Linked DNA regions of Homo sapiens: all the other regions are linked to region 2. Evidence: fine-mapped expression QTL. A gene starts in region 2. Each other region holds a variant in brackets. All regions are shown on one strand. Distances are between the middles of the regions.

What was found.
Region 1: its variant is fine-mapped to the expression of ANKRD10 in whole blood (TOPMed, PIP 0.98).
Region 3: its variant is fine-mapped to the expression of ANKRD10 in whole blood (TOPMed, PIP above 0.99).

The regions. Positions count from the first base shown.
Region 1 is chr13:110,887,955-110,895,954 of GRCh38, reverse strand. It overlaps ANKRD10 (ankyrin repeat domain 10), which reads left to right. Exons shown (of 6, transcript NM_017664.4): 4 at 2,692-2,927. Among named protein-coding and RNA genes, the nearest start is that of PRECSIT, 22 kb to the right of the region's middle. The variant T/ACT (reference allele first, on the strand shown) is at 3,104.
Region 2 is chr13:110,911,894-110,919,893 of GRCh38, reverse strand. ANKRD10 (ankyrin repeat domain 10) reads left to right here and starts at 4,825. Exons shown (of 6, transcript NM_017664.4): 1 at 4,825-5,169. The coding sequence starts at 4,960. RefSeq lists silencers at 3,984-4,143, 4,274-4,933, 5,204-5,573 and enhancers at 3,511-4,185, 5,684-5,813, 5,537-6,213.
Region 3 is chr13:110,870,516-110,878,515 of GRCh38, reverse strand. No RefSeq gene overlaps it. Among named protein-coding and RNA genes, the nearest start is that of PRECSIT, 4.2 kb to the right of the region's middle. RefSeq lists a silencer at 3,628-3,847 and enhancers at 4,785-5,662, 7,908-8,000. The variant T/C (reference allele first, on the strand shown) is at 3,534.

The DNA.
Region 1 (8,000 bases), 24 kb after region 2:
CCACATGGAAATTTGGTTGGTCTAAGTAGAGGACAAGCACGTATTTAACTACCTTTGGCAGGGGAAAAAGTGAAGTGGGAGAGCTTACCAGTGCTACCTATGTGTAGGCTGACACTCTGAAACTTCAGTCTCCAGGAATCTCCATATGTTGGCACTATTTTGTTGATTATTTTTCTATAAGGTTATATTTCTTTGGAAGATCAGTAAACTTGCTGTTCTAACCCAAATTCAGTGTAGTCTTCAGCTTCTGAATAAGGAATAAAGGAATCGAATGTGCTTTGGATGTTCTTTTAACAATTTCAGAATGTTGGCATGCCCTTTGAGCATCTAAACTTCCCTCAGCGAATTGGTATTTATTTATTTATTTAGAGATAGAATCTTGCTCTGTTGCCCAGGCTGGAGTGCAGTGGTGTGATCTCGGCTCACTGCAGCCTCTGCCTCCCAGGTTCAAGCGATTCTCCTGCCTCAGCCTCCCAAGTAGCAGGGACTATAGGCATGTGCCACCACCACACTCCGCTAATTTTTTGTATTTTTAGTAGAGCCAGGGTTTCATCATGTAAGCCAAGCTGGTCTCAAAGCTCCTGACCTCAGGTGATCCACCCGCTTTGGCCTCCCAAAGTGCTGGGATTACAGGCGTGAGCCACCGTGCCCAGCATGGTATTTATGATTCTAAGTGCCATTTCAAAAATCTGTTTGCTCTTTTTTATTCTCTGGTCCACTAAAGAGTAATCTTTACTGTGGGCTTTATTTCATATTTTTATTTGTCCTAATACTAAGTGGTAGCTTCTCATTTCTCTGTTTCTTGATTTTGGAGAGCAAGTCTATGCTTATCTATAGAAATAATCAGTTTGTAAACTTATGTTCTCCTTGAAGAGTTTTTGAATTTTCATGTGGCAACTTATTTTTCTGTTCACATTCTTGACAGAATAGACCCTCCCAGGTCATCTGCACTTCTGATATCTTTTGAAAGTGAAATATACCATTAAAAAAAAGTCCAGCTATATGATGAAGCTGTCACGTAATATTAGTATATTTTCTATTTCAATAACAAGGTGATCTGATTTTGTACAAAGTATAATTAATGTAATACAATCTGCCCAAACTTTGGTGCTTCCTTTTCATTTAATTCATATATCAAAATAAAAATATTATGCAATACTAGAAAATACTCATGGCCATTCATAGCCATGCAGTCTTAATAAGGCTAATAAAAATAGTGACTTTAGTCTGTAATAGTCCTGCACATAGCCGCCTTATATTTTTAAGAATTTTGTTGGTTTCTGAGATTCTCAATTCTCTTTTATCTCTGATCAGATAGGATTTGGGTCTTTTTTCAAAAGGTGTAATGCATTTATCTTATGCTTTAAAAAGTAGAGACGCTTAGCTAGTGTCCATGCACACTTCTCATTTCCAAGGTCAGAGCTCTATGATGTCTGCAAATAACGAATACAAGGCTATTGTCAGTCCTTATAAATAAGAAAATATTATTTGTCCCTAATTCTGTAGTTTTCACTCTCAAATGCGGGGTTTTTTTTTTTTTTTTTTTTTTTTGCATTAACAGTAACCCCAAGAAAGGCATCAGGGTTCTGGAGTGGTTGTTTGAGTGACACAGCACAAGGCCTTGATTTCATCATGCTTTTGCTGTGGATGTAGTGTAGCTTGCTGAACAGGTATGGAAGCTGTCTTTGCTGTTAAGTACTTCTCCCGTTTGTTTATCAACCTGCAGCTAACAGGATGTCTGCTTTTTTACAGGTTTATTTCACAGAGCAGTGTACATTCTTGTCTTCCAGGGGAACTTCAACATGGAGTTACTTTTGATCCCTCAGTTTTAATTCAGTGTCTAAAGGTTTACAAGTTCAACTTACTCTATTTTATTCAGCTCTTTCACTTACTCTGCCATCACTTCCTACTTGAATCTGAGTTTTAGCTACTGTAGAGGTCTCAGACCTTTCCTTTTTAGTACTATTAGCCAGGTAAAACTTTGGTTCTTGTGAGTGGTAGGGATGAGTTTTTAGGACAGTATTCAAAGCCTTTTTAAAGGAACCAACTACTCAAATGCTCTACAATGCCAAAAATACAATACTCCTGCAGGTTTTCCCAAGCAAGGCCAAAACAATCAAAATCTGACAGAAAAACACAGCTGTTCAGCTCTGGAATCTGATGATAGGCTACTTTTTAATGTCAGGACATCCTTCTAAACTTCCACTTACAGTGTCACATGTAAGCATGAAGGCTGGCTCGTTGGTGAGCCATTGCTTTGTTTTTAGGAAGACAGTTATGAATGCCATGGACAATCTCAGTACATGTTGTTTGTTATGATTTTATTCACGCTAAAGGAATGGGTATTAAAATTAAGTGCATATAATATAGAATTCAGTTTCAAGTCTGAAGTTAGCGTAAATTTAGATTCTTCAGACTAACATAAAACATGATTTTGAGAAGTTAAATAGGAAGATGCCTTTTTTAGAAGTTTAGCATATTTAGTTTATCTCCCAAATCTTGCTTAGAAATCAAATGTATATAAGAGAAGTTAGTTACAGAGCTAGATTGATTAACTACTTCTTTAATGAAGATTTGCTATGAATTTGTTTACTCTTTCATACCACCTTCAGATAGCTAGTCAGTTCAGCAGGAGCAGAGACCAGGTTAGCACGCGGATGGGGTGTAATTCAGTGTTTTTGTGTTGTACAGCCTGAGAAATGCCAGTGGCCTGACAGCAGCAGACATTGCACAAACCCAGGGTTTCCAAGAGTGTGCCCAGTTTCTCTTGAACCTCCAGAATTGTCATCTGAACCATTTCTATAACAATGGCATCTTAAATGGGGGTCATCAGAATGTATTTCCTAATCATATTAGTGTGGGAACAAATCGAAAGAGATGCTTGGAAGACTCAGAAGACTTTGGAGTAAAGAAAGCTAGAACTGAAGGTGAGACCGCTTTGCGGGTGGGAAGAGCACACTTATTTTTCCTTTCTGTAATATGTTTTCTTTTTATGGCTGAGCGCACCTTCGAGATGAGACCTTCACTTCAGGTGGTAATGCGCCTGGTGGATTGTGCGGTGACGGTGGAGATTTCTCCTGTACTGCCACTGCGAAGATGGGAC[T/ACT]TAACAAAAGGGAATGTGAGGGAAATACTGATGGCCCAAGTGTAAATGTCTATGTGGAACTTTTTGAGCACCCATGTTTACCTGCCATGAATTAGATTTTTTAATTTGTTGTATCTGTTTGAAATATATCTATTAAAGAAAATCTGCCACTGTGCCTGAATTTTTTTTTTTTTTTAATTTGCTTCTTGTAAATGTTCCTGGGCTTATAAAAATTGCTGATGGTCTGGCAGTAAAACATTTTCACATTCGGGAAGGTGAATGTTTTCTGTACTATTTCTGTACTATGATTTGACCTCAGTGGTCTCTGTACCTCACATGTGTGTTGACTTATCACAGCAAGATCTGGTGTATAATTTGATCTTGAGGATTTAAGTCCCTAAGGTAAGTTATTTTCGTTGTAAGTATTCTCCCACCATTTTTTTTTTTTTTTTTTTTGCTCTGTCACCCAGGCTGGAGTGCAATGCTGTGATCTCGGCTCACTGCAACCTCCGGCTCCCAAGTTAAAGCAATTCTCCTGTCTCAGCCTCCCAAGTAGCTGGGATTACAGGTGCATGCTATCACACTGGGCTAATTTGTATTTTTAGTAGAGAAGGGGCTTCACCATGTTGGCCAGGCTGGTCTTGAACTCCTGGCCTCCAGTAAGCCACCTGCCTCGGCCTCCCAAAGTGCTGGGATTACAGGCATGAGCCACTGTGCCTAGCCGTTTTTTGGGTTTTTTGTTTTTTGTTTTTAAGGTAGGTTTGAGTTTGCAAATAAGCAGTCAGCCAGTCACTCTTGAAGTTGAAAACATCTCCCTTTCCTATAGGAAAATCATCTATATCTATATATAAGATGTCTTAGGCCAGTTGTCATGGCTCATACCTGTAATCCCAGCACTTTGGGAGGCTGAGGCAGGAGGATTACTTGAGCTCAGGAGTTCGAGACCAGCCTGGGCAACATAGTGAGACCTTGTCTCTATTTAAAAAAAAAAAAAAAAAAAAGTCTTAATAAGAAGGTAAATGTGATAGCTTGGCAGGCATATTTAGTGAACTTAGGGGGAGAGGTGGGAGTGTGAAGTAATGAAGCAGATTATGAGCTCAGATTTGCTGAGTATAAGCACAAAGTTTTGCCCGTTGGTTTAAAAAAATCAACCGTGCAAGTTACAGCATAAGGAAAACTGAGTGACTATCAGTTAATCACTTAAAAATCTAGAGATTTTGGTTAAATTTCATGAACCAACATCATCTTTTCTACCTTATTTAATGAGTGTGTCCAAGTGAAACATTTTTTCCCTATAAAGTTGATAAAATGTCAGTATTATGTACTTCACAACTATATCTTGTCACCATAAAAATTCCTGTGATAAGACTTTTTATAGTAATGTATGAACTTAACAGTTTTATCAAATTCAAGATTTTTATGAGTTAAGCATTTCTGGAAAGATGCTAAAATCATAAGCATGACATGAAGATCTGCATAAAATTCAAAATGGTCTTTTTTAATGGTGATGTATTCAGCATTGTCATTTATTTGTACCATGTTTTAATATATTTTTTCTAATGTAGTTTCAACGCCTTTTTAAGAGCATCCACTTTTTAAAAAAATCCTTTGTCATTTCCTTTAATTAAAGCCTGGTTAGTATTGTAGAGTGGCCTCATGCCCTCATGCACGAATTGTACATGTCTGTCCCTGTATGTCACTGTATAGTCTAAATGTCCTTGAAAAATGATTTATGCTTCATTTTCTCTTATTGCTGATAAATCTTAAATTCTGTTTAGTATTTTTAAAAAGAGATCACTTAACATGCTAATTGGACTCAAAATGCACCTAGAAGAGTTCGTAAAACTAGTCTCAGAGTTTCTAAGGTCAGTTGAATTGGCCAATACCACATTGCTTAATTACCCTGAAAAGCATTTCTGAGGATTCCTTGTTTCCTAATCCTCGTTAACTACATAAATTTGGTTTAAAGAGTCCTGCTGACTTTGGGGGTTTTATTTTCTTCCTTTAGAAGGAGGATTTGTTTTGGTTGACCAGTGATTAGAAGTTCACATTTTGCACATTAAACTCACCATGCAGCCTTCCCAAACTATACATTCCTGGTCCCAAGCCCGAGGGTGCTAATTTAGACAAAAATATGGTTGGAGCCGGCACTTCTGCTTAAGTGTTGCAGGTAATACGTAGACCTAACAGGTTGAGCCACTGTTGCAGGTACACAGTACATGACTGATGTTTCTGTGATTATCACAGTTGAAATATTTCAGCCAAGATGCACATTACTTCAAAGCTGCTCATCCTTGGTTTTCCTAATTTGTATACTGACCATGACTTTACTAATTTCCTGGAACTTCTGATGGTTCTGTCTTTTATGTAGTTGACAGTCCTTAGATTTGCCACACTCGTCACAAGAGTGTGTTTATATTTTTTTGTGTCTGTGTGAGCATAGATGGGCATCTTTAGCTCACCTGCACTCCCACCACTCGTTTCCCTATGGGAAAAGGTGATTTTTTGCCCCCCTTTTACCATTACATACTGAGAGTGCTGATGTCGGGTATTGGGAGTCATTCTTGGTCATTAAAACAGGATTTTTTTTTCTGCCAATTACCTGAATGTTCTACATGAAATTGTTCTTGGTTTCAATAGATATATAATTATTTCCATATTAACTGACCAGTTTTTTAGTTTTGAATTAAAGATATGTTGCTTTAGTTTTCGTTGTAATTTCTGGCATCTTGTTTTGATTTTGTTTAAATGTGTGTTTTAAGTTTTGCTTAATCTGAATTATTTTATTAGGTTTTTGGTTCTCATGCCAGAGTAAAAGAAATGATAAATTCTTTTTTCCTCATTTAACACATGTATATAAAATACTTTGAGTAACTTCACATATAAAAATATTTAGAAGAGTTTAAGCTGGGTTTTTTGTTTTGTTTGGCTTTAAAAACAAAAAAAGTTACAGGTGCCAGGGATAATATCTTGGCTGCGTAACTTGTATCTTACCAATAAAACTTAGTGCGTTCTGTTTTCCTAGAATTTAAGAGTTACAAATATTGATGCTTTTAGTGTGGAATTTATATTTACAAAAGTAATTACTTCCAGAAAGTTTTCTGGCTAAGTCACCTCTTAAGGAGATCCCTGTAAAATTCACCCTTTAAAAAAGAAAAAGAAAAAGCCAAAACACTTTGGAATCCTGAGTCTGAATGTTAACCATTCTTCCCCACAAAAAGTAGTGTCTGCTTTTAGTAAACTACTTTCAAGTATTTTAAATTGGAGGAATTTTCTTTTGGAAGCTGTTGATGTAAAAGATCTTAAGTGAAGAAGAAAGACTTGGCCTTTTGTATTGCTTGAATATTAACTGTCTTGGAAGGAAGTTATGCTACAAGAAGTCATACTTTCATAAAATTATTTGCATCTGTGTCAAATGCAGTTTAGTCAGAACGTAAGACATAATAGGTGTGGACATGAACTCTGGAGTGTGAAATAAAATCCACAGTTACTTAAGCAGTCTGTTTTGATGGAAAGTATCTTGGGATAATACTTTCCTCAGTGTGGGATTTTGTTCATTTTAGATGGTGCAAGGAAGTATCAGTCTTTAATTTTTTTGTTGTTGTTTTTATCAATCATTTGCTCTGATGGTATGATGCATGGGCTTCAGGACTCCAGCTGCACCACTGTATAAAACTCAGTTCAGGTTTGCTAGCGTTCTTGGTTAATCTTCAGGAATAACCCAATACAATTATTTTTATATGTACTCCTTGGAAACTGTGGTCGTTTTTCAATGATCTTGGTTAGAAAAGAATGCCAGTCCCTTCCATGAGTGAAAACTTGATTTTGCTGATTGATAATTGTTTTGGATGGAGCTCTAGAGTCGTGGGGAAGAAGCAGGGGAACACAGTGAGTTTAAAAACTGACCCAATAACTTCAATTTCACAATTGGGACATTTGCCCCAGAAGTAGGCTGTGGTGACAGCAGATCTCAAGTGTCAAACTGACTTCACAGCTCGGTCTTAATCACATAGGCATATTACTGATCTTAGAATCTCATTCATACTGTGAAGGTATTGAATATAAAAACACCTTACAGAAAAAAGTATCTACAACATGATGATTTAAAGGTAAAATTACCGGTGGAAAGTTTTAACACTTTCCCAGAGTGGATTTAACCTGGATAAAGGATCTCTGCCTTTTGTCCTTAGCTGTTCGTGTTGAGCAGGGTTAAAGACTTGGTAAAGGAGGGCAGATATGACCAGCTGGTTTGTTAAATGATAGATGTTTATTGCTTGAAACTTGAGAGGAAATAAAATGCCTCCCAGGAGTAAATTTGTAATTTAGTTCCTTCTAGTTTAGTTACATATTATAGCACTTTAACTCCTGACGTCCTCACTGTTTTCAAATTTGCAGTATATTTGTTTATAAAAATGTGGCCAGGATGATAGAACACACCTACCTAATTGTGTTCAAATAAGGAGTGATTGTTTTTTCTTGATCCCTGAAGATGTGACGTCTTGAAATACAGTCTGAATTACACTTCCAGTCCAGACAGTGTCTGCGTTTTCCACTGTTAAAAGTCTCCATTTGAGCAAACCTCATGGGCCTGAGTTGTCCTCAGCACAGTTGTGGACACTCCAGTGGGAAGCAAAACGAAGACTGGCACACTTGATCACAAGCCGCTTTTGTATTATTTGAGCCAAACCCCCAGTCCCCCCCGGTCTTTCCAGAGCACTCAGTTCCCTTCTCTGTCCTTTGTCGCTGCTGCTTCCTGCTGCCTGGAGTCATCCCAACCCTCTGCACTGCTGGAATCTGGGCCCTGGCGGGTCCCGCGAAAGGTCACCTCATAATAGAAAAACAATTTGGTTTTAACAGGACCTTAAAAAGTTGAGTAAAATGTGCTCTACAGCAGAACAAAGAATAGTTCCAGGTAATG
Region 2 (8,000 bases):
CTGCTCCAGGCCTCTCCATGGCTTCTCGTGATTTGCCGTCGTCTTTGGGATTCCTTGGCTTGTAGAAGCATCACCCCCATCTCTGCCTCCATCTTCACGTGGTCGTCTTCCCCTGTGTCTGTGTTCAACTGTCCCTTTATTTTTATTTTTTATTTTTTTTGAGACAGAGTTTTGTTCTTGTGGCCCAGGCTGGAGTGCAGTGGTGCGATCTCAGCTCACCGCAACCTCTGCCTCCCGGGTTCAAACAATTCTCCTGCCCCAGCCTTCCGAGTACCTGGGATTACAGGCATGTGCCAGCACACCAGGCTAATTTTGTATTTTTTTTTTTTTTTCAGTAGAGACGGGGTTTCTCCATGCTGGTCAGGCTGGTCTCAAACTCGCGACCTCAGGTGATATGCCCACCTCGGCCTCCCAAAGTGCTGGGATTACAGGCATGACAAATGTCGCCTTTTTATAAGGACACCAGTTATATGGGATTGGGGGCCCACCCTACTTCAGTGTGACCTCATGTCAACTAGTTATATCTGCAATGACCCTATTTCCAAATAAGGCCACATTCTTAGTTCTGGGGGTTAGGACTTCACATGAATTTGGGGGGGACACAATTCAACCCAGATCAGAAGGAGTGGACTCTGGGACAGGGCAGGGAGCAGCCTTCAAGGCAGAGGTAGCCCCAGTGTCAAGGACATGCTCTGGACAGCCCTGGGCAGTGACATAACAAGAAGTCCAAAGACAGGCAGTCGGCCCTGGCTGTAAGGACATTACCCAGCCAAGGGTCTGATCTTGGACTTTGCTTGCTGGGAGCATTTTCCCAGGTGTGGTCTGAAAACCTCGAATGGCAGGAGCCAATTTGGAAGGTTTATAGATCAAACTCTATTTTGATATCTATTTGTTTAAATGGGTAGGGAGAGAATGTAACCAGCACCACAAACTCACTAATGGTTTATTAATGAGAGGATGTGAATGAAGTGGCTAAGTTTAAAAAAGTGAACCAGTTTTAAGAAAAAAATATCAATCCTATGTAGATATAAAAGTCCACATATGGCCAGGAGCCATGGCTCACACCTGTAATCCCAGTGCTTTGGGCTTTCGGAGGCCAAAGCAGGAGGATCCCTTGAGCCCAGGAGGTCAAGGGTGCAGTGAGCCATGACTGTACCACTGTACTCCAGCCTGGGTGACAAGAGTGAGATCCTGTCTAAAAAAAAAAAAATCCACATGCAGGTGGTATCTGAATGACAAGTTTTGGAAACTGTTCCTACATCAATTTTTAAGCAGATTTGCCCTCTCAAAAGATGGATTTGCCAGCGTAGTGGATGTGGATAGGAATGGAGAAGGGGCCGAGGAGAAAACAGCAAGGCTTGCAGGCCCACGTTGAGTCCTGAAGGTGTTGTCACAGTGGGCTCCCTGATCTCCATCCTCATAGCCAAGCTGCAAGTCTGACCCGGGTCCCCCCACCCCTCCATCCCAAGTCATCACTCCCTCCCTTAAATGGCACAACAAAACCCCTCATTGGTTCCCAAACTTTTTGAAAGTAAAAAGCCACTCCTTAGCATGGCATGCTTAATATGGAACATCAACTGGGGCCTACCTTGCTCTCCAACCCCACGTCCCTCAGGGCGCACTGCTCCTGGTGTAATAACGACACTCAAGAGATGCCCATCAATGTCTGTCACACGTATGGACACTGAATCACTGTGCCATTCACACAACTGAGCCCTACCCCACTTCCACAATTTCTCATACAATGCAATCCTTTTTTGAAAAAAAAAAAAATTCCAGTCTAAAGGCAATCTTAATATGTTAAGTTTTGAGTTTTCCTGTTTTCTTTCATGGATTTGGATTGTATCTTCAAATGCCTAAGTTGGCTTGTGTATGGTTGCTTCATCAGATGAAAAAGATGTTATGAATCTACTCTTCTTCTCTTTGGAGCTTTTAAAAAATGAGAGTCTCAAAGGAAATCTGAGATTGGTAATGATTGTTACAGGAAAGGGGTCCCAATCCAGACCACAGGAGAGGCAGGGTTCTTGGATCTCACTCAAGAAAGAATTGAGGGTGAGGCCACAGAGTAAAGTGAAAGCAAGTTTATTAGGAAAGTAAAGGAATAAAACAATGGCTACTCCTTAGGCAGAGCAGCCCCGAGGGCTGCTGGTTGCCCATTTTTATGGTTATTTCTTGATTATATGCTAAACAAGGGGTGGATTATTCATGTCTACCATTTTTAGACCACATAGGGTAACTTCCTGATGTTGCCATGGCATTTATAAACTGTCATGGCGCTGGTGGGAGTGTAGCAGTGAGGATGACCAGAGGTCACTCTCGTCACCATCTTGGTTTTGGTGGGTTTTAGCTGGCTTCTTTACTGCAACCTGTTTATCAGCAAGGTCTTCATGACCTGTATCTTGTGCTGACCTCCTATCTCATCCTGTGACTTAGAATGCCTTAACTATCTGGGAATGCAGCCCAATAGGTCTCAGCCTCATCTTACCCAGCCCCATTTAAGATGGAGTAGTTCTAGTTGGAATGCATCTGACAATTATCAGAGTTGAGCAAAATCTGGGTGACCAACCAATTAGATCACTGGCATTGGGAATAGTCAGTAGACACCATCCTATCCACAATCCTCCTGCCACAGTTACAGGATCTGTCTTGGGGATCCATCACCACGTATATATGTCAGTCTACTCCTGTACAGCTAAATAAATATGTATATAGTCTAAATAATCCTTTAAAAAACCCAGTCATCTGAAGTGAGGAAAGACGTACACGAAGTACCCTATCACTATAACCTATTTTATCTTCCTAGCCCTTAATACTCTATGCAAAATAAATTCCAAAGTTAAAAAAAATCTAACAGTGGGTTGGAACCTAGGTCTGGATATTATTCTAAGCTCTGCCACAGGCATGCAGTTTGCCCTTGGACAAATTCCTTGACTTACCACCATCTCTGTTTCACCATTCCCAGAATGCAGCCTAGCAAGTAATCCCTCCCTTTCATTACATGGAGGACAAGATACACTCACGTCCTTTCGCAAAATGGGACACCTCTCTCCTAAGAAAGATGGAAATCAGGGGGATATATTTTAAAGAGATTAGATTAAAATCAACATGGCATGTGAGAAGAAAAATGATTACGTTCTAGAGTAAACAAAACCTGAAATGAGTTTATAGTCTATTCTCACCCTTTTGGTCCAAACAAAAAAGTATTGCTTGATTATTCTTTCCTGCTTCACTAACAGATTACAAACTCCCTGGGAGAAGATAGATTCTATGTGTCATATTTTCCATTCATTAGCAATTGCTCACTGAATTGAAATATTTGCTACTTCCCCACTATAGAGTGTTTCTCAATGTGTTTCATTCAGCATTGTACTCAACAAATGTTTGCTGTATGAAGACATGTCTGTGTTGAGTGTTTACACCACTAGTTAACAACTTCCCTTTGTTAAATCTTAGGTTTCTATTTTTTCGTTTTATTAACCAATGCTGCAATATGCTTTCTCGTGCATCAGTACTTCCCTAGACATCTAATTGCCTTGTTCAATTTGTGACGTAGAATTTTGCAAAAAGGAAGTTTACACAGCGAAAAACTATATATACAAATGAAATAAAATACATGATTTAAAAAGACCGCATATTTAGAAGCAAAGGAAATATTCATAAACATTGTGGTTATTCCTCAATAGTGAAATTACTGATGCTTTCATAATCAGAATAAAATTACATATGTAATAAAGTCCGTGATACTGTCATTCAAAATAGGGGATTTGGTACTCCCTTACATTTATACAGTTCTCAACAAAAAGCCTTTTATTGTTTGCTCTGTCTGGTCTTCTCGCTTATCTCTTAAACTTGCAAACGTATAGTCCTAGCCCACCGCACTCGGTTCCGAAGAAGGCGTCCCTCGGACAAAACCGAGGAATCTGTCCTGCTCTGTAAGGAACTAGGGCTTGCTGATTCCCAGATTTTAACGAGAATCCCTGCTCCCCGTAGGCGCTCCATAAATTTTTACTGGACAACTTCACCGCGCGCTACTGGGCCTCCGGGAGACCCGTGACTCCCACCCGCTCTGGGCGCGGGCCCGCAGAGCCTCAACCCGCGCCCCCGGCAGCCGGGATTCCCCGCCCGGACCGGCTCCCAGGCTGGAAACATCATGGTCCGCACCCGGGGCGCAGCCGAGACCCACCGCGCCGGAGGCCCCGGGACCCGCTCAGACCGCTGCTTGGCCACTCTACGCCCCTGAGCCCCCCACACAGCCAGCCCCGTGACCTCCGAGCCCCGTGACCTCCGAGCCCCGTGACCTCCAAGCCCCGGAAGCCGCTGTAGGCAGCGGCCCAGCCAGGCCCCGCCCCCTCCACCGGAGCTCCACGCGTCAATTCCAGCCAGGCCCCGCCCCCGGCCGCCCCAGGCGTGGACCCAAGCCAGGCCCCGCCCTCTGCCTGGCTACTCCAGGCGCCCACCGCCCCAGGCGTCCTCTAGCCCAAGCCCAATGCCCGGCTGCTCCAGACGTCGACAGCCCCATGCCCCGCCTCCTAATCGGCTGCTGCTGGCGTCCTCTGGTCCAGGCTCCGCTCCCTACCCGGCTGCTCCAGGCATCCTCTAGGCTAGACCCCGCCACCTACCGGCCGCTCCAGGCGTCCGCAGCTCCAAGCCCCGCCCTCCGCCCGGCTGCTCCAGGCGGCCTCCGGCTCAAGCCCCGCCCCCTGCCCGGCGGCTCCAGAGGTCCGCGGCTCCAGGCCCCGACCCCTGCCCGGCTGCACAAGGCGTCCTCTGGGCCAGGCCCCGCCCCCAGCCCGGCCGCTCCAGGCCCCGCCCCGCCCCCTCTGTGCGCGCTCCGCTCGGCAGCCTGTGGGACGCGACCGCGGCGCTAGTCTCGTTCCTTTGTGCTGCGGCGGCGGCTTCTCGAGTCCTCCCCGACGCGTCCTCTAGGCCAGCGAGCCCCGCGCTCTCCGGTGACGGACCATGTCGGCGGCGGGAGCGGGCGCGGGCGTAGAGGCGGGCTTCTCCAGCGAGGAGCTGCTCTCGCTCCGTTTCCCGCTGCACCGCGCCTGCCGCGACGGGGACCTGGCCACGCTCTGCTCGCTGCTGCAGCAGACACCCCACGCCCACCTGGCCTCTGAGGACTCCTTCTATGGCTGGACGCCCGTGCACTGGGCCGCGCATTTCGGCAAGGTGGGTGCGAACGCTTTAAGGCGCCATTTTCCCCGGCTGTCCAGTGGGAGTCGGGGAAAGCGGGTCTGAGGTGCGGGGGACGTGGGGCGTGCCGGGATCGCGGGGCGGAAGCGGGATCGACGGCGCCTGTGCCCCGAGGGGCCTAGGGCGCCTGTGCGGCAGCGCTCGCGGCCCGGAGTCGCGGCGGGGCAGCCGGGGGGCGCGGGGCGGAAGCGAGGTCGGTGGCGCCTGCGTCCGGAGGGGCCTAGGGCGCATGTGCGGCGGCGCGCGTAGCAAGTTTCTAACAAGGCGGGCTCCAAGGGTCCCGGCGCCTGTTGGCCGGATCCTGTGCGAGCGCGCGCGCGCGCGGATGGTGCGGGGCCCTCCAGGCCGGGCCGGAGGCGCGAGCGATTTCGCAGAGCCGGGTATTAGGCCGCGAAGTCGCCCAGGCGGCTTCCGGGGAGCCGAGCTGGGGTCAGAGGCGCGCGGGGAATGCCCGGGCGCGGTCGACCTTCTGGTTCCGCACAGCCTCGCCAGTAGCCGAGGGCCGCGCTGCGGACGAGCTCAGCCGAGGAGCAAGCGCCCCGGCGGGACTGGAAGGCCCCGGCAGCTGTGTGGGATGGAGGCCGGCTCTCCAGCTTCTGGGTTTGCTTTAAGGCTTGTAGCTGGCCCCGCTTCAGCAAAATTAGTGACGGCTGTGTTTATCTTGGATCTAAATTACTGCAGAAGTGGTTAAATTAAGCAGAATTCTCTTCCCGTGGAGGCTTTACGTTCCCCTCTTTTTTCTTAAACTGAAAATTCTGGGGGAACACAGTGCTGCTTTAAGGTTTTAAAAGGTTGGATAGCTACCGTTTCCTCATCTGTGAAGTCGTTGGGGTACTTGCTCTCAGAAATCTTAAATAAGATTTCACCGTGCATTTCAGAAGTGACTGGTTTTAATTAATATTTCTTAATTCACTGAAATTCAGGGATGTGTATAGTGTTTTTCTCGTAAGTGATGAGATGGGGTTAAATGGTTTTGCAGAAATATGTGAGAGGTAATGTGAAATAAGTTACTTTAAGAAGGCCTGGCCCTGGTAATGTCGTTACCAGCTGATGAAGTTGCGGTTTACCTTGCTGCCCCTGGTGCTACATTCACAAAGCAGCTGTGTCTTTTGGAAAGCAGTTTCTGATTCTTTTAAAGTGGAAAAGTCACTTTTCTTTCAATAAAAGAAATGAAAAGGAGTTTTGACGATCGGGGTGGGACAAGCAAGTTAATCAGTCCTCAAGGGCTGTTAGGTTCCTGTGGCACTGTCTCTGAAGTTGTGCAACCGTAGTACCTGCTGGAGAAAACAGGTGCCCAGGGGAAATGAGTTTCTTAACAAACAAAAGTAATAAAGCCTCCTCCCTGCGCTTCTGCGTGCAGCCTTAAATAGATTTCCCGAGGCAGTCAGTAATCTGAGGATTTCCTCCCTCCAGAGTGTCTCTTGCTGTGGTTTATTTTTACACTAAACTTTAGGATTCTGTCCTTTCTACCCTGGTTGAGAACGACACAATACTGGGTGATAGTCAGTGAACAACGATCTGTAGAATGCTTAAAGCCTCATTACAGATGGTCACTTAGAAAATTTAATCCAGTGGTGCCTCCACTTGTCTCTGGGGATTAAAATAGTTACTTTAAAATGGTAATTTTTAATGTGTATTTTATCACAGTTTTTTAAAAAACACCGACTGAAATCACTTTTCAAAAGTCTACTTCCATGGGACTTTGAGTAGTAGCTTTACCTTGGTCATCAAATGTTGTAACAAGAAGCAGTTACTTCATTGTTTCCAGCTGTCTGAATCATAGGGCTCTTTGGTCTTAGATACGGAAGGGGCCTTAGAAAGCCCCTGTCCAGTGTCCAAACATTCCCTTCTGAGAAGAAGCCGTTAGGACAGAAATCAGGCCAGGACTCAGGGCTACCGCTTGCGAAGTCCAGGCTTTCTCCCCAGCCCTGCTAACGGCTGCCCTCTTACACAGGTTTCAGGCTCGTGTTCTTAGAAATGTGCTAGTGGTGCACAAGATCCCCTAACCGTTGGTAAGACTCGTTTGTTGCCAGAGGACTAAACGAGTTGTTTAAAATCTCTGTTGTAGCTTTTATACCATATTGAACAGTATCTTTCCAGAATTCCAAATCCAAGTTTCTAAATTGAACCCAAGGGTAACAGGTTTAAAGCCAGCGAGCCCTGAATAGCTGATTTTTGGTACGCCAAGTGATTTTCATCCGTTTTATTTTTATTGGATTTGCAACCTGTTCATCTTATCGCTAATTAATACTTTCATTTTCACCCAGTGAATTAATAAAGGCAATAAATAGACATCAGCCTTTACTCCCAGGTCCAAGTTGGTTGAAGAGGGTGTTTTGAATCTGTGTACTCTTCATCTCACAGGAGTGTTTACTGAAAGCCTGAAAGTGCTAAGAGAAATGGAAAAAGAAACCTTGAGTTGAGATGGTAGTGTCAGGTGTTTTGTCTTCAGGTGAGGTCTCTCCTCTTGAAGAGAATTGCTTGCAGTCAGGCATAGCTTGTTCCCTAACTGCATTGTGATTGGAGTGAGGGAAAATGAGCAGTCCAGGATCAGAGAACGTGGGTTGAACAGTTGCTTGGCACATGGTAGGCACTTGGTAAATTTGTTGAATGCGCTAAATTATTTTAGCCAGAGGCTATCATGGTATTGGTGCTTGGCCACAAAGTCTTAACTTGCCATGTTAGTCACCCACTAGGTGCATTGCTCAGTTATGCTGTAGGCTTTTTTCCCCCATAGGGTTTTGAAAAGAGTAAAAAAATGTGGAGAATGGGGCCTCTATTGATTATTCAATGAGTATTCAGTGCTG
Region 3 (8,000 bases), 41 kb after region 2:
GGCTTGGGGGCCGGCGGGGTGTGGATATCTGTGGAAGGAATGGGAAGGGAAGAGAAGTTTACTATTGTTTCATTTTGCTTATAAGATTTTACTTGACTCTTCTGACACTCTTCATACGGTGTTTTTTCTATTTTTGAGTTTCTACTCTAGTTTTATGGGCACCGTTGGTACTGAACCTCTGTGGAGGAAGGATGAATTGCATGTCAGTTCAGTATTGTGCCTGGGTGCTTATTTTCATAAAAGACAGCAACCATAATGTTCTAAACTTCTTTGGTTTTAGCAACTGTTAATTAATGTAAGCCTTTTAGGAATATGAATTACAGTTATAAATAGCACCAATATAGCCATTCTGGCATGCCTACATATGCAATTTAAAACATTCACTGCATCATGCATATTCTTGTAAAAACTTAATAGACCACAATGAGGGAGCATTATGCTTTGGAAGTTTTGCAAAAATTACAGTGAGAACAGGAAGAGAATGCATGGCGCTGTCCAGGCCACCGCCTCCCATCCTATGGCAGACACTAGTAATCAAGCTTAGAACTGAGATTTGGCCTCAGACTGATCCAAGAAGCCACCCACACTACTGAGTTTTTAAGAGAGATGAAACTTGATGCCATCCCGTTTGGACTGTTTTCTAAGGTATTCCAGATGTTCTATAGTGACTTAATTATTTGCTGAAAAACGTTGTGAATCTCTGAAAACACAGTAAACATACTTTTGATTAGTCTTGAATTTTTGGACAGAAGATGACTGCTTAGGAACAAAAATGTTGCATAGAACCTAGAGTAGGGCAACATCCACACTTGAGTGGATGATTGAAGTAGTTTGTCATATTCTAGTTTAGAGTCATTTACACCAGTATATTCAGTTCTTATTTAGTGATACATAAGGAAATGGTGATGATGGAATTGCTTTCATGCCTGGAATTTGCTTCAAACCATAAAAATATGAGTGGAGCCCATGATCCCTGGTGAGTGGAGACAAGGATCAAACACAACTGGTGCAGGCCGATGTTAAATCTGGGTGGTGGGTATGTGAAGGTGCGTTAGTCTGTGTATTTTGTATTTATTTGAGACAAGTTTTTTGGGGTTTTTTTTTTCAGGACTTGAAGAAAAAATGCTCTATTAAAAAATATGGTTGTCATTTTAACATTGAGAATAAGCTTAGGTATTTCTGTGTCCACCAGAATTGACGTTTATACTGACTGCAAGAATAGCTCACTGAGTCTTAGCCTTTTTGGCCTGCAGATACTTTCCCATGCATGCATTCTCTTGTACTAGTAGAAACAATTGGAAAATGAAATAAAGCCCATTTACAGTGACACCCAAACCATGGCATACCTATGAAAATATCTTAACAAAAGATGTTCAAGACCTCTACACTGAAAACTATAAAACATTACTCAGAGATAGAATACCTAAATAAATTTTTGGTTGAAGTATGTGGAGAAAATCTGGCCTTACACAGATAGGTAATTGGAAAAAGGGATATTTGAATCGTCTTTGCAGTTAATTGTGAGTACTTGATACCATGCCCAAACTCTGTAGTGGTCGTGGGGCAGGAGAATAGGAAGTTAGGGTAACCAAGGGCTAAGGCATAAGCAAAAGAACAGCAGGTACAGCCAGTTCTAGGCAAGATTAGGCAGCACTCAGACCACAGCCTCCTACCTGTGATAACAAGACAGTCTCCACTTCAGCCTCTGATTGGTTGCAGGCTAATCTTTCATAGGGTGCAGCCAATTGGAGGCCTCTAAAGGTCACCTAGGGGTGTTACCAAATTCTTTTAGCTTAGTAAAAACCCTAGAGGGGGCACTCTTGACCCTGGCTCAAGTTGGCTCCCACTCTGGAGGGTACTTTTGCTACAATAAATCTGCGCTTTTTTTGCTTCTTTCGTTGTTTACTTCTTTTGTTGCTTTGTGTGTTTGGTTCCATTCTTTATTCAGCTGCACCAGGAACCTGGACAACTCGCAGTCAAGACCTTCCATTCAGTAACAGTAGTTTCTTAAAGGCTAGTTGCAATGTTGAATCAGGATCCACATCAGTGAGCTTCTTGTATCGTTCCTGTAGAGTCCATCTTTCACTTAGAATGGACCTTTAACCCATGCATAATTTTTTATGCATTACTTGGGAAATATTTTTTAATTGAGTTCTGCAAGTCTTTCAAATGTTGAAACTTTTCATTAATATTAAAACATTGATAACCAGCCAGGTGCGGTGGCTCACGCCCGTAATCCCAGCACTTTGGGAGGCCGAGGCAGGTGGATCATGAGGTCAGGAGATAGAGACCATGCTGGCTAACAAGGTGAAACCCCATCTCTACTAAAAATACAAAAAAAAAAAAATAGCTGGGTGTGGTGGCACGCACCTGTAATCCCAGCTACTTGGGAGGCTGAGGCAGGAGAATCGCTTGAACCTGGGAGGCAGAGGTTGCAGTGAGCCGAGATCACGCCACTGCATTCCAACCTGGGCAACAGAGCAAGACTCTGTCTCAAAAAAATAAAACATTGATCACCAATAATCTCATGAAAGTCAAAAGTTGGAAGTTGTCAAGCTCATGGTACTGGATACAAGTTTTACAACATCCTGATTTTTGCTGAAAAACTCAAATTTTATCATTGGACACAAATACTGTCAGTTTTCCTTGAAGTAGAAGACTCACTTGGTTAATTTTTTGGTTTTTTTAAATTGAGACGGGGTCTCACTCTGTCGCACAAGCTGGAGTGCAGTGATGCGATTTTGGCTCCTTACAGCCTTGACTTCCTGGGCTCAAGGGATCCTCCTGACTCAGCCTTGGAGGTAGCTGGGACTCCAGTCGTGCACCACCATGCCCGGCAATTTTTTTTTTTTTTGGGGGGATGGGGTCTCACTATTTTACCCAGGTTGTCTCAAACTCCTGACCTCAAGCAATCCGCCCACTTTGGCCTCCTAAAGTGCGGGGATTACAGGCTTGAGCCACTGCATTACAACCTGGTTATTTTTTTTTTAATCACATAGCTTGTCAATCATTATTTCAAATGAAAATGACGTTTCTGAAAAAGTCACTGGATACACTTATCGCACAATCAGCCAGAGCCGTGCTTTTCCTGGAGACAGCTGTACACAACAAATCCTTCATGCACACTTCCCTTTACATCACAGAGAACGTGTGCTGTCAAAATTTACTCATGTTTACAGCATTGAGGGCATTCTTAAGTGAAATTGGGTTTTTTTCTTTTTTTTGACTGCACGGCAGTGAAGAATATGAAGGTGATCAGGCCGGGGCAGTTTTTGCTAAGGTGCTAGTAGCTTTACCCACCATTTCTTTTGAACCCTCAGTGCCGAAGTCAACACTGAAAAAGGCAAATCACATCTCGGTAATGAGACCGTTTTGATTTTGGGGACCCCCTGAAATGGGGTCCTGGGGACCCTGGGGTTCTGCAGGCCACAGTGAGAGAACTGCTGGAATGTTTTGAATGATGAGATCTAAGCAACTAGTGATAAATACTGGAAAATGTAGACTGGGTATTCATTGAATTACCCTTTTTGACT[T/C]TTCCATAGGTTGGATTTTCGGGGTTTTATTAAGGAGAAGAAAACGGGAGAATAATTTGGAGACAGAACATGGGAAACATTGAAGAGTTTCCCGGAAAGGGGGAGCCAAGAAACAGGCAGCGGGTGGAAGGGAGGAGCCCTCGGGAGGGCGGGAACCGGGGGCGGGGCGCCGGCGCGGGTGCAGGGACGAACCATCAGGAGGGCGGGAACCGGGAGAGAGGCGCAGGGGCGGGGAGAGGGGGGTGAGCCGGGCGGTTCTGGCGCGGCTCTGCTTGGGGAACCGCAGCCAAGGTTGGGGCGAGGCCGTGGTTGGGATGGGCCGGGGCGGGTGAGGGGTCCCGGGGCGGTGGGAGGGTAGCGGGGGCTGCGGCAGGGCACGGCTGGAGCTGGGGGCTGGAGGTGGACACCACCCCAAGAGTCTGCACTGAGCAACGGTAACAGTGAGCCCGGGCACAGCTGCAGCCAGGGAGACCCTGAGTGTGCGAGTGTGCGTGTGAGGATGTGTATCAGTGTTTGCAAATGCATGTGAGTGAGCGAGCATGAGGATGTGTGTCCATGTATGGATGTGAGTGTGCAAATGTGTGCGAGGACTGGGAGTGTGTGAGAGCGTGTCAGTGTGGGAATGTAGGGGGAATGTGGAGGGAAGTGTGTCGTTGGCAATGTGTGAGTGTGCAAATGTGTGAGAATGTGAAGGGAAGCGTTGAGTATTGGATGTGAGTGGTAATCTGGTGTGTGTGAATGTGTGAATGTTTATGTGTGAATGTACGTGATGTGTGTGGATGTGTATGATGTGTGCGCACGTATGAATGTTGATTTGTGTGACGTGTGTGCAGATGTGTATGAATGTGTGATGCATGTGGATGTGTGTAAATGTGGCTGCTGTGCATGTGTGAATGCTATATGTGTGTGACGTTTGTGACTGTGTGTGTGCAGGTGTGACTGTTTTATATGTGTGGCTGATGTGCATGGGTGGTAGTGTATGTGAAACATGTTATATGTGTGCATGTGTGAACGTGTGTGGCTATTGTGCACGTGTGGATGTGTGTGAATGTTGCATGTGGGTGTTGTGTCGAGGTGTGGGCATGTGTGTGAATGTGACTTGTGTATCTGGATGTGTGTGAATGCAGGTGTGTGAATGTGTCACTTGTACATGTGTGGATGAATGTGCGTGTGTGAATGTTATGTGTGTGTGACTTGTGTGGGTGTGGATGTGTGTGAATGTATGCATGTGTGTGAATGTCGTGTGACGTGTGTGTGTGAATATATGTGTGACTTGTGTGGGTGTGAATATATGCATGTGTGTGAATGTCTTGTGTGTGATGTGCGATGTGGAGAATGGATGGAAGAGCAGGCGCTTGGCGAGGGGGGAGGGAGGAGGATCAGAGGCCATGGGAGAGGGCGGAGGGAGCGTAGGAGAGGCCATGGGGGAGGGGAGGGGCGGAGAGGCCACTGGGGAGGAGAGGCCGGGGTCGGGGGCGCCTGCCCACCGTGAAGAGGCCCCTGAGGGCAGCTCGGCCTCCTGTTGGGGGCCAGGGTCGGCTCTGGCGGGAAGGCCCAGGCAGTGCAGAATCATGGAGCTCAGGGGCCCTGCTGGGGTCCGCTCAGGAGCCTAGGGTCCTTAGAGAGGTCTCAGGAAATGGGCAGGGGGAGATGGGGCTGGAAAGGGGACATGTGGACAGAATGGGGTCGGAATCGGAGTCTCCCGGGCAGGAATCGCTGGGAAGGTGGACATCTCAAGCCCTGGAGAAGCTTCCAGTCCGCGGAAAGGGGAGAGGACTGGAGCTCCTGGGTGTCTGGGGCAGGACGTGGATGGGGTCACATTTTTCTCTGTTGGGAATAGCACGTGCGAGGCGTGGGCTCGGGCTTTGAAGGTTTGCAGGGTGGGGAAGGGAGGCCGGTGAAGCTCTGAAACCATCCCCGAGGGGACTCTGAGTGACCACTTTGTGGTCAATCCGCAGGGAGAGCTGAGGACGAGGCGGAGGCCCCACAGGTGAGGGCCAGGTGAAAAGCCCTACAGCTGCTGTGTTGTCGAGCCCCGTGGCCAGGCGGGGCGGGGGGCCATGGGTCCCCCAATTCTCTGGGCATTCAGCAGAAAAACCGGCAGGGCTCAGCCAGGGAAGCTGAACTAGAAGTTTCTAACCTGTGCAAGCAGAGCCACACAGGTCAAGAGGACTCTGGGAGGTCCCAGGGCTCAGGGAGGGGCTGCGGGAAGTGCAGGCTTGGGAAAGGGGTCTCCACCTGGAGTTCAGGCCTCATCCCAGTAATGGTCACAGCCACCAGATGACCAAGTGCCCCAGTACCTGGGCAGGCAGGTCCACAGTGCAGCAAAGAGGGATGTGCCTCTTGGGCAAAGTCTGGCAGAGGCTGAGGGGTGGGTACTCGCCCAGTACCTGTGCTGGAAGGTCACCTTGAAGGGGTCCCCAGGCCATGACCAGGGCTGCAGTGTCCCCAGGGTTAGAGCTGGTCAGTGCAGAACTGGGCATCCCCCTCAAAACACAGCACTGACAGCAGCAGCAGAGCGTTGAGCTGTGAGGCAGGACGTCCCACCCGGGGAGGGGCCCCTTCCTTGGGCTCACGTTCTCAGGAGATCACAGTGCAGTGTCAGCCAGGGCTGCAGTCTCATCTGAAAGCTCCCCTGGAGCCTCTGCATCCAAGCTCACGCACATGGCTGGTGACTGGACCCAGTTCCCCCCGGGTCGCTGAACTAAGGGCCTGAGTTCTTTGATGGTTGTTGGCCTAAGGCCACCCCAGCTCCGTGCAGGGGAGGGCAGGGGCCTCTCCACCAGGCACTCTGAGGAGTGCTCACCCCCCGCAGGGAGAGGCGGGAGGGACGGGGAAGGGCAGAGGACACATCAGGTTTTTCATCTTACTGCGTTTTTTTTAAAACAGGAAGATCTGAAGCCAACTACATTCAGCAAGTTTTCTTAAGAACAAAGTAAGAAAGATAAACCAGAACAGCCCTGCTTGGCTTATCCCGGCCTCGCCTTAACCCTCCCTTCCCTGCCGTCTTTCTGTGGCTCCCCTCTGCCAGGTGCCCCCTGAACTTTAAGATTCCAGGATGGTTTGAGAACAACTTCGATGTTTCTGTTTTCCCATTTATGAAGGCTACTGTGCTCTCACCAGTGAATTTAATTACAAGATTTTTAGAAGCAGCTAAAAAAATTGCAACTCAGATGCATCAGTGAATCAGTCCTATTCCCTGTCTGCTAAAGGATGTCTTTTCGTTACCATCATCTGCCGCAGGGCTTTTCTGACAGTTCATATAATTCAAGATAATTGAAGCCAATTTTGCAAGCAAAACGACAGGAACCACTACATGAAATAGCACATCAAGTCTCTGATTCACAACAATGGCACTATTTCCTCAATGGTTTTAAAATTCTCTTGGCTAGGCGTAGTGGCTCACGCCTGTAATCCCAGCACTTTGGGAGGCCGGGGCGGGCAGGTTGTTTGAGCTCAGGGGTTCAAGACCAGCCTGGGCAACAACGTGAGACCCTGTCTCTACAAAAAATACAAAAATTAGCTGGGCTTGGTGGCGCATGCCTGTAGTCCCAGCTACTTGGGAGACTGAGGTGTATCAATTGAGAAAAATGACAAGACAAGTCTCAATCATTTTAGGAGGTTTACTCGCCAAAGTTAAGGACGAACACTCGGGAGACAGTCTGTACCTTTCTCCGAAGATGATTTTGAGGGCTCCAAATTTAAAGGGGAAAGGGTGAGATAATGACAAGTACACAATTTTCATCTAAGAGGCGGGTAGAGAAAAATAGTCATGCGTTTGGCTCATTGAATCTGCATTATTTTTACACAAGATGACTTAGACAAAGGGGGCAGGGGAACAATCAGGTTTGCATTTGTGTCTGGCGGGCAGGGGTTGACTGCACCTGTAAAGATGAGCTATCGATTTGCATTGCTGTGGTGAAATCTTAACAGAAACACCTTACAGTAAAGATTGCGGAGCTCACTAGGAATTTCCTTGTGGACAAAATATAGGGGAGGTGTGCAGTTTTTCATCTTGCAGCATCTTATTTAGGGACCAAAAGGGGAGGCAGGTTTGCATGACCCAGTTCCCAGCTTGACTTTTCCCTTTGGCTTGAGTTTGGGGGCCCAAGATTTATTTTCCCTTCACAGGTGGGACGATGGGTTGCAGGGAGGATGGGAGCCTGGGAGGCAGGGTTGCAGGGAGCCAAGATCATGCCACTGCACTCCAGCCTAGGTGACAGAGTGAGATCCTGTCTCAAACAAAACAAAACAAAACAAAACCTCTCTCTGGAAGAGAAAGGAGGGACTGTGAAAACAACCGAGGGAACAGGCAGCTTTCATTACCAGCAGCATGGGATCCTCGCCCAAGGCCGAGAAAACACAGGAGTGAAATGACAGCTATAGAGGTACACTCCGCAGGCTGCATGAAAAGGACAAAAACAGTAATATACACACCAGTAAGGAACGGCATTGGCATGCTCCGCC